2 linked regions of the Homo sapiens genome follow. The protein of the gene in region 1 interacts with the protein of each later gene in a biochemical or structural test. Each region holds a gene or a part of one and is shown on either strand. Other genes may lie near its edges. The genes, in order: CDH2 and PTPRG.

The links.
Region 2: of the proteins of CDH2 (region 1) and PTPRG, one has a biochemical effect on the other in vitro, tested with the Homo sapiens proteins (one large-scale study listed by IntAct).

Annotation. Positions count from the first base shown.
Region 1 is NC_000018.10:27,995,387-27,999,414, reverse strand, and holds part of CDH2 (cadherin-2 isoform 1 preproprotein), read left to right. Parts: intron 1-4,028. UniProt on the Homo sapiens protein: Calcium-dependent cell adhesion protein; preferentially mediates homotypic cell-cell adhesion by dimerization with a CDH2 chain from another cell. Cadherins may thus contribute to the sorting of heterogeneous cell types.
Region 2 is NC_000003.12:61,564,571-61,568,070, forward strand, and holds part of PTPRG (receptor-type tyrosine-protein phosphatase gamma isoform 1 precursor), read left to right. Parts: intron 1-3,500.

The sequences.
Region 1 (4,028 bases):
TTCAATCTTCCTTCCTCTACAGGTTGCTTCATAATCTACAAACCTGCTGGGTCTCCACTGTGGTAGCATAGCTCTCCATGCCCTATAGGATGAAGTTAGAGCTTTTTAATAGTGCATTCCAGACCCTCTGTGACCTTGGCCCCAAAACCCTCCTTAACCTAACCCCCCAGAATTACTTGCCTTTCACATACAAATGATGCCCAACCACTCATTGAACCACACACAGTCCTTGTGCAAATAGGAAGTTTTCTATTCTTCTGTTCCCGTTTCCTCTGCCTAAATATTGTTCTCCTACATAACAGGCTAATCCTTACCCTCTGAGAGCCAGTTCTCAATCCCTTCTCTGATCACCCACAGTAGTCTCTGCATACCTCTATATAGACTGTGTTACACAGAAAGTATATCTGGATTCCCATTCTCAACATCCAGTGGGGCAGATATTCCTTGTCTCATTACCCTGAACATGAATTGTAAAGAAATGTTTAAGTTACTATACTTTACCTGAGTTCCACACCAGTCTTCTCCAAGGGGCACCCAGCACTCAAGGCAGGCAGATCAGTTGAGCCTAGGAGTTTGAGACCAGCCTGGGCCACATGGCGAAACCCTGTCTCTACTAAAAATACAAAAAATTAGCCAGGCGTGGTGGTGCATGCCTGTAATCCCAGCTATTCAGGAGGCTAAGGTAAGAGGATCACCTGTCACCTGAGTCTGGGTGGTCAAGGCTGCAGTGAGCCATAATCGTGCCACTGCAGTCCAGCCTGTGTGACAGAATGAGACCCTGTCTCAAGAACAAACAAGCAAAAAATACTTCCACTCCTTCCTTGTCCACTTGAAGTCCGGCTTTCCACCTGCTTCCCCCGCTTGACCTGTGCACATGCTGCATGTGTGCAGTACTCTTACCATCTTAGAGGGCACTCACGTAGTGGATTGGTTAACGGTACAGATTCTTGACCATACCTGAGTTCAAGTCTATTATCTGCCTCTTATGGCTGGGTGTCCATGGCAAGCTCCTTTACCTTCCTAAGCCCATTTCCTCATCTGTAAAATGGGGTTTCAAAACCCCACCTGCCTCATAGGATTATTGTGAGGACTAACTGAAATAATGCATAGTGCATAGCACTGTGCTGGGCACATAGTGCTCAAACTCAATAAAAGTTGTTTTTTGTTTTTAAATCAAGGCCCTTGGAACAGTGCCAGCATGTAATATGTATACAAAAGAAAGACCACATTTATAAGGTAGATGGTACTTTTAGTCCCATTTCACAGATGAGGGAAGTGGGGCTTAGCAGTTAAGAATTTGAACAGAGTTGGCCAGGAGTGGTGGCTCACACCTGTAATCCCAGCACTTTGGGAGGCCAAGGTGGGCGGATCACGAGGTCAGGAGATGGAGACCATCCTGGCTAACACGGTGAAACCCCATCCCTACTAAAAATACAAAAAATTAGCCAGGCGTGGTTGCGGGCGCCTGTAGTCCCAGCTACTCGGGAGGCTGAGGCAGGAGAATGGCGTGAACCCGGGAGGCAGAGCTTGCAGTGAGCCGAGATTGTGCCACTGCACTCCAGCCTGGGCGACAGAGTGAGACTCAGTCTCAAAAAAAAAAAGAATTTGAACAGAGTCACAAATCTATACTTCCCTCCTAAGTTTCGGTGACATTGTTATTCAACTCTCTGTCCCCAACCCAATTTATCTAGAGGCAAATCTGTCATCTCCTGAAACCCGTGATTTATGATGAATTTCCTATTTCACGTGACCAGGACCTTCTCCTCAGTCTCCCAAGGTCATCGTTTAATTGCCTTTCCCATGCCCTGCTGTCCCTCTACCTGCAATCTGTTTAGTCATCAAGTTCTTCTCTTTTTACTCAAAGTAATGACATTAAAAGTAATGGCAAAAACTGCAGTTACTTTTGCACCAACCTGATAGTTGGTATGCACTATTGAAGGTTCTTCATATTACTTCTTCCTACCATTTCTAGACTTGCACTCATGCATTTGGTGGCTCTATATGGTCCTGTGATCCTTTACTCTCTGCCTCCATCACTTAGTGAAAGCAAGGCTGTATCTCGTTTTGGTCACTGTTTTACCCAAGTAAATACTCCATTGCCTGGCATTTTGAAGACATTTCATTAAATGTCTGCTGTATGAATGACTGAATGTTCTCACCTCCTCATTCACTGATGTCACTCAGTGTTTCAAAATTGTGCTGCACGTGCATAAGATTTTAATTGGTAAATGCTGAGAAGCCTCTAGGACAGCAAGCGGACACAGCCTTTCACGTGCTACTTCATCAAGTAGAGACTGCCAGAATCCAAGAATTTCATCATGTTTATTTTTTACTGTCATATTTATGATAACTGATGCTAGCTTTCCATTTATGGGACTTTTACAATAAATTAAGCTTTAAAAAGGGAAATTAATGTCAATATAAATAGGAAGTGACTCATAGTATGAGGAAATGTTAGAATTGGGACTACTGTGCATGAATCACTGTGGTTTTGGGAAAAGGTGAGCTAGTTTATGCTCCCAGTATGGGTTTTAAGAAGTAAATTATAGCTATCCATGTGAATAGAAGATGGCTTTTTCTTTACCTGAGATAAGATCATGCAAAACCCAAGGTTTCTTATGCATTCACCCATCCATCCACCAAGTCAGAAGCATTTGTGGAATTCTTACTCTGAGTCAGGCACTGTGCCATATATGCCAGTGGCACAAGCATCAACAAAGCAAGGGCCCTTGGGACACGTGTGTGTGTGTCTGTGTCTCTGTATGCACACACATGCACAGTGAGGCAGATACAGACATACGACTGATAACAGCCATATAAACTATAAACAGTGATGGGGTGTGTTGTAAGGGCTCTGTCCTGAGGACACAAACAGCTCTTCCTCAAGAACTTTCAGAAGTCGTCTCCAAAGTGACTTGTAAGCTGCATGTTAGCCAGGCTTGGAATGAAGGGAATGGTATTCTAGGCAAGGGTTTCTCAGCCAGGACACTATGACATTTTTACTTGGTTATGAGGCCTGTCTTGTGCATCATAGGCTGTTTAGCAGCATCCTTGGCCTCTACCCATTAGATGTCGGTACTGAGTTTGGTTGTCACAACTAAGGAGTGCTTAGTTGTAACAACCCAAAATGTTCACTCTGTGTAACATCCACTTGTCTAGGCAGAGGAGAATGCCAAATGGAATGACACAGGATCATGACAGGGCATTTGAAGATAAATGCAAAACAGCTCCAGGTGTGGGGTAAGCGAATGGGAGGAATCACTTTTGTAAAATAGGCGAGTTTCGGAGAGGGAAGGATTGACAGCAAGCAGATGATTTTGGATTTTATTCCATATAGAGCAGGAAGGGAGGAGAAGTTTTCAAGCAGAATCCCCTTGATCAGCTGAGGTACTATGAGAGTGGGAAGTCGAACACTTAACGGAATCTAAATGTCAGTCATTCACAGCCAGATGCCCAATGACCAAATTAGGCAAGAAGCTCTAAGCAGTTCAGTTGTCTAAAACACAGGCTATCAAGCCTTCCTTACTAAATATAAGAATGTTTTAGCAATCTGGCATTTGAAAATGGAGATGACATTATTTACTATTTACCAAGTGGAATTTTTTTTTTATTTGAAGAGATATTGTACTTTGGAAATAACAAGTGTCCTTTTGTAATTTAAAATTTCCAGACTAGCTTGCAGCAATAAGAAATTTCAAGTATTAGCTACTAATTCCAATATTGCAGATCAATGGAAAATTATTGGATGTATTATGCTTACATAATTCTAAAGATTTTTGTAGACTAGACATTAGGAAATAACTATACTTTCATGTAATACCTATGTGAGTTAACTTCTTAAGAAATAAGCTTCCTTTTTTTCTCTCTTTTTGAGAATGTTCATCTGTTTCTGCAAATAGCAGCTAACAAAACTGACATTTCAAAAGTCATAAAAGTTTTTATTTTCATGGTTTTCAGCTGGGAGGCTGAACTGAATGTCCTGCGAAATTCTCTCACTAACCATGAAAGCATTAAGCTGAAGTGACACT
Region 2 (3,500 bases), on another chromosome or scaffold:
GAGGCGCAGGGAAGAGGGCGGTTTGGTTTGGAAAAGTGCAGCCCGAGAGGGAGCAGCAGGCTTTGGAGCAAGGTAAAGTTAAAATATCAGAGCTCTGGGAGACGCTGGCTTTTCGTTTTCCGAGGTTGCCGCGACGCCGCTGGACCTCAGGGGGCGCCCCCGAGCCACTGGTGGGGCTCCTGCCACCTCCACACTGGTCGGCCTCGGCCACCTCCACGCCTCAGGGATGGGGCGCGCGTGCCCGGGTTCCCAGGCTCTGGGGCTGCAGACGCGCCTTGGCGCGAGGCGGCGGCCTCGGCCTGGCGATGCTGCTCCTGGCTTTCTCGAAACCCGCTGGGGGCTGGAGTTAGCCTTGGGACCCCTACTTCTTGCCTGCTATGACCTCGAAAGCGCTTATCTGTTTGACATGAGGGATAAAAATGCTTCTGTTTTGGAGTAGGGTCGTCCTTGTGAGGTCTTAGCCAAAATCCCTTTTTATTTAGTATTTTTGTGTTTCCTCTCAGAATCATAACTCAGCATAACTCTTCAGTTGCATTTGAGTTCTCAGCTCCTGTTCAGGATATGGGTTAGCTGTAGTTTGGGCAGGGTTTTGGAAACACAGCCCTGGCATGAGCTTTTTCCCAGTGGATTGGAAACAGTGGATTTTAGTCTTTGAACAGCAGTGTGGCAGGTTTGGGATCCATTCAGGGTTAATAATGCTTCAAGTGATGCTTTCCAAGTGCAAAGCTAAGAGTGTTACCAAACATGATATTAGGCATATTACATTGCTATATACATCTTTATAAAGCACTGTAGAAACGTTTACAAAAATAGCAAAATATAATGGATCCCCCACCCAACTTCAACACTCACAACTCAATCTTCTCTCATCTCTTCCTCCCCAACACCTTATTATTTTAAAGCAAATCCTACACATAGTTCATTCAAACTCTGATACATATCTCCAATCACTGGGAATTTAATTGCCTCTGACACAGTATAAAATATGTTACTTCAGAGTGTTAACCTTTTATCTAGTTTACATTCTCAAGCTCAGCAGATTTTTTTTTTAATTGATTTTTGTCTTTCGGCCCTCAGAGTGAAACTCTGGTTTTGATATGTTTTGTATTGTAATTACATTATATCTAGGATGCTGCCATTGGAAACAGTTCAGATGGATAAGCTCAGCTGTGTACCTTGGATGTGTCAGAATTGGAGGCTCCATGATTAATGTCGGGTGAATCATGAATCTCCCTCTAAGCTGTCTCTTATTTTATTTGCATGTGCGGGCTTTAGTTCTGATGGGCATCCGTTATGGCCTTAGGAAAAGGCAAAAGTAATATTTGGAAATCAGCAATCTTTCTCTTTACAGGGTGTGAGATTGTACAGGTTTTTTTTCCCTCTCCCTCATGTATCATGTTTGAAAATGAAGAATCTTTACCCAGTCTCTAAACTGGGTTCCTTTGACACAGTTATGGAATAAAATCTTTGATGTTTCCTTCTAAACAGTGTTCACATTTGAGGGTTGATGGACTTAAAACACTAATAAAGATAGGCATAAACAGGGCCTTTTGGAAATAGGGGAAGTTGCTGTTGTTGCTGAAAGAAGAAAGGTCATAGGAAGGGTTGGCTGATGTGGGAAAAGTGACTATTCCATAGTGAAGCTTTGAGTATCTCCCATTAATTATGGACCTGTTTTCACTGAATAAAAGATTATGTTGTTGTTTACATGAAGCGATCCAGCGAATGCTGATGATTTAATGCAGCAAAACAAACAGCCCTTTCAGATTTGCCTTTCTATTCTAAACAGCTCCCAAGTTAACAGAGTAGAATCAGTTATACACCTGTGTGCTGATTGAAAGTAACTTCCTTGGCATTCACGTGAGATCACTTAAAATGCCCTAGAGTAGTTACTCAGGAGCCTCTCCTACTCCCTTGTCTCCCTGCCTTTTCCTGGAGACTTCTTTTCTTTTTTTGAGATGGAGTCTCACTCTGTCACCCAGGCTGGAGTGCAGTAGTGAGATCCTAGCTCATTGCAACCTCTACTTCCCAGGTTCAAGCGATTCTCCTGCCTCAGCCTCCTGAGTAGCTGAGTCTACAGGCACGTGCCACTATGCCTAGCTAATTTTTGTAATTTTGTGGAGACGGAGTGCCGCCATGTTGGCCAGGGTGGTCTTGAACTCCTGACCTCAGGTGCTCTGCCCACCTCGGCCTCCCAGAGTGCTGGGATTACATTGCTACTGGGCTGTTGCTTTAACACTTTGCTTTTACAGTGACACGTTGTTTGTTCTTTTTAAATCTTGATTTCCATTCAGCATGTGGGACAATGAAATGCCATTTCTAGGCAGGTTGAAGATTGCAATATGCGTACATTCTGAATTAAGAGATTTAAACAATTGTAGTTAATACTGTCATCCTGGGTTACATTTCATGTGGTCACATTCCATAACCCGGAGCTTATGGGAAAAATTTAGGGCATCTGAAGTTCCCTCTAAAGCACTTGGTGCCCAGAAATTAGCCCTTGGTTTGCTTTGGTTCAGAGTTGACCTCTGTTAGATGTTGGGTGGTGGTCACTGAAACTGTTTTCGGCTGTATCCTGTTTAGAGAATAAAAGGGCTGTTTTATTAATATTATAGAAGCCAAGGAGTACACTGCTCCCCACCTTTAATTTTCCACCTGAGCTTGATCTAGGTTAAGCAGCCACTGACGAGGTAGAGGGAGTGGCTCAGGAGGGACTCAGGAGGGGCTGAGAAGAGCCTGCTCTGTGAGGGCTTCTTGTGGGATTTGGCAATAGTCACTGAATTTGTCCCAGAATGAGGTTGCCTGTGCAAATGATTAAAAGATAAAACTGGGCACTGTGGCTCACTCCTATAATCACAGTGCTTTGGGAGGCGGGAGGGTCACTTGAGCCCAGAAGTTCGAGACCAGCCAGGGCAACATAGGGAGACCCTGCCTCTACAGATAATAAAAGAAAAATTAGCTGGGTGCACTCTTTTGTCCCCACTACTTGGGAGGCCAAGATGGGAGGATTGCTTGAGCCCACGAGGTTGAGGCCGCAGTGTACTGTGATCATGCCACTGCACTCCAGCTTGAGTGACACAGTGAGACCCTGTCTCAAAAAAAAAAAAAAAAAATTAAAAGATCAAATGTAGGCTGGGCATGGTGGCTCATGCCTGTCATCTCAGCACTTTGGGAGACCCAGGTGGGCAGATTGCTTGAGCCCAGGAGTTCAAGACCAGCCATGTGCAACATGGTGAGACCTCATCTCTACAAAAAATACAAAAATTAGCTGTACTTGGTGGTATGCGCCTGTAGTTCCAGCTACTCCAGAGGTGGAGGACAGGACTTTGGGGCTGCAATGAGCTGTGATGGTGCCACTGCTCTCCAGCCTGGGCGACATAGTGAGACCCTGCCTCAAAAAAAAAAAAAAAAAAAAGTTCATTTGCCAGTCTGAGAAATGGGAGCAACCATCTTACTTGGAAACAAACTATATCCAGGACTAGGGCAACATTCTGTGCACT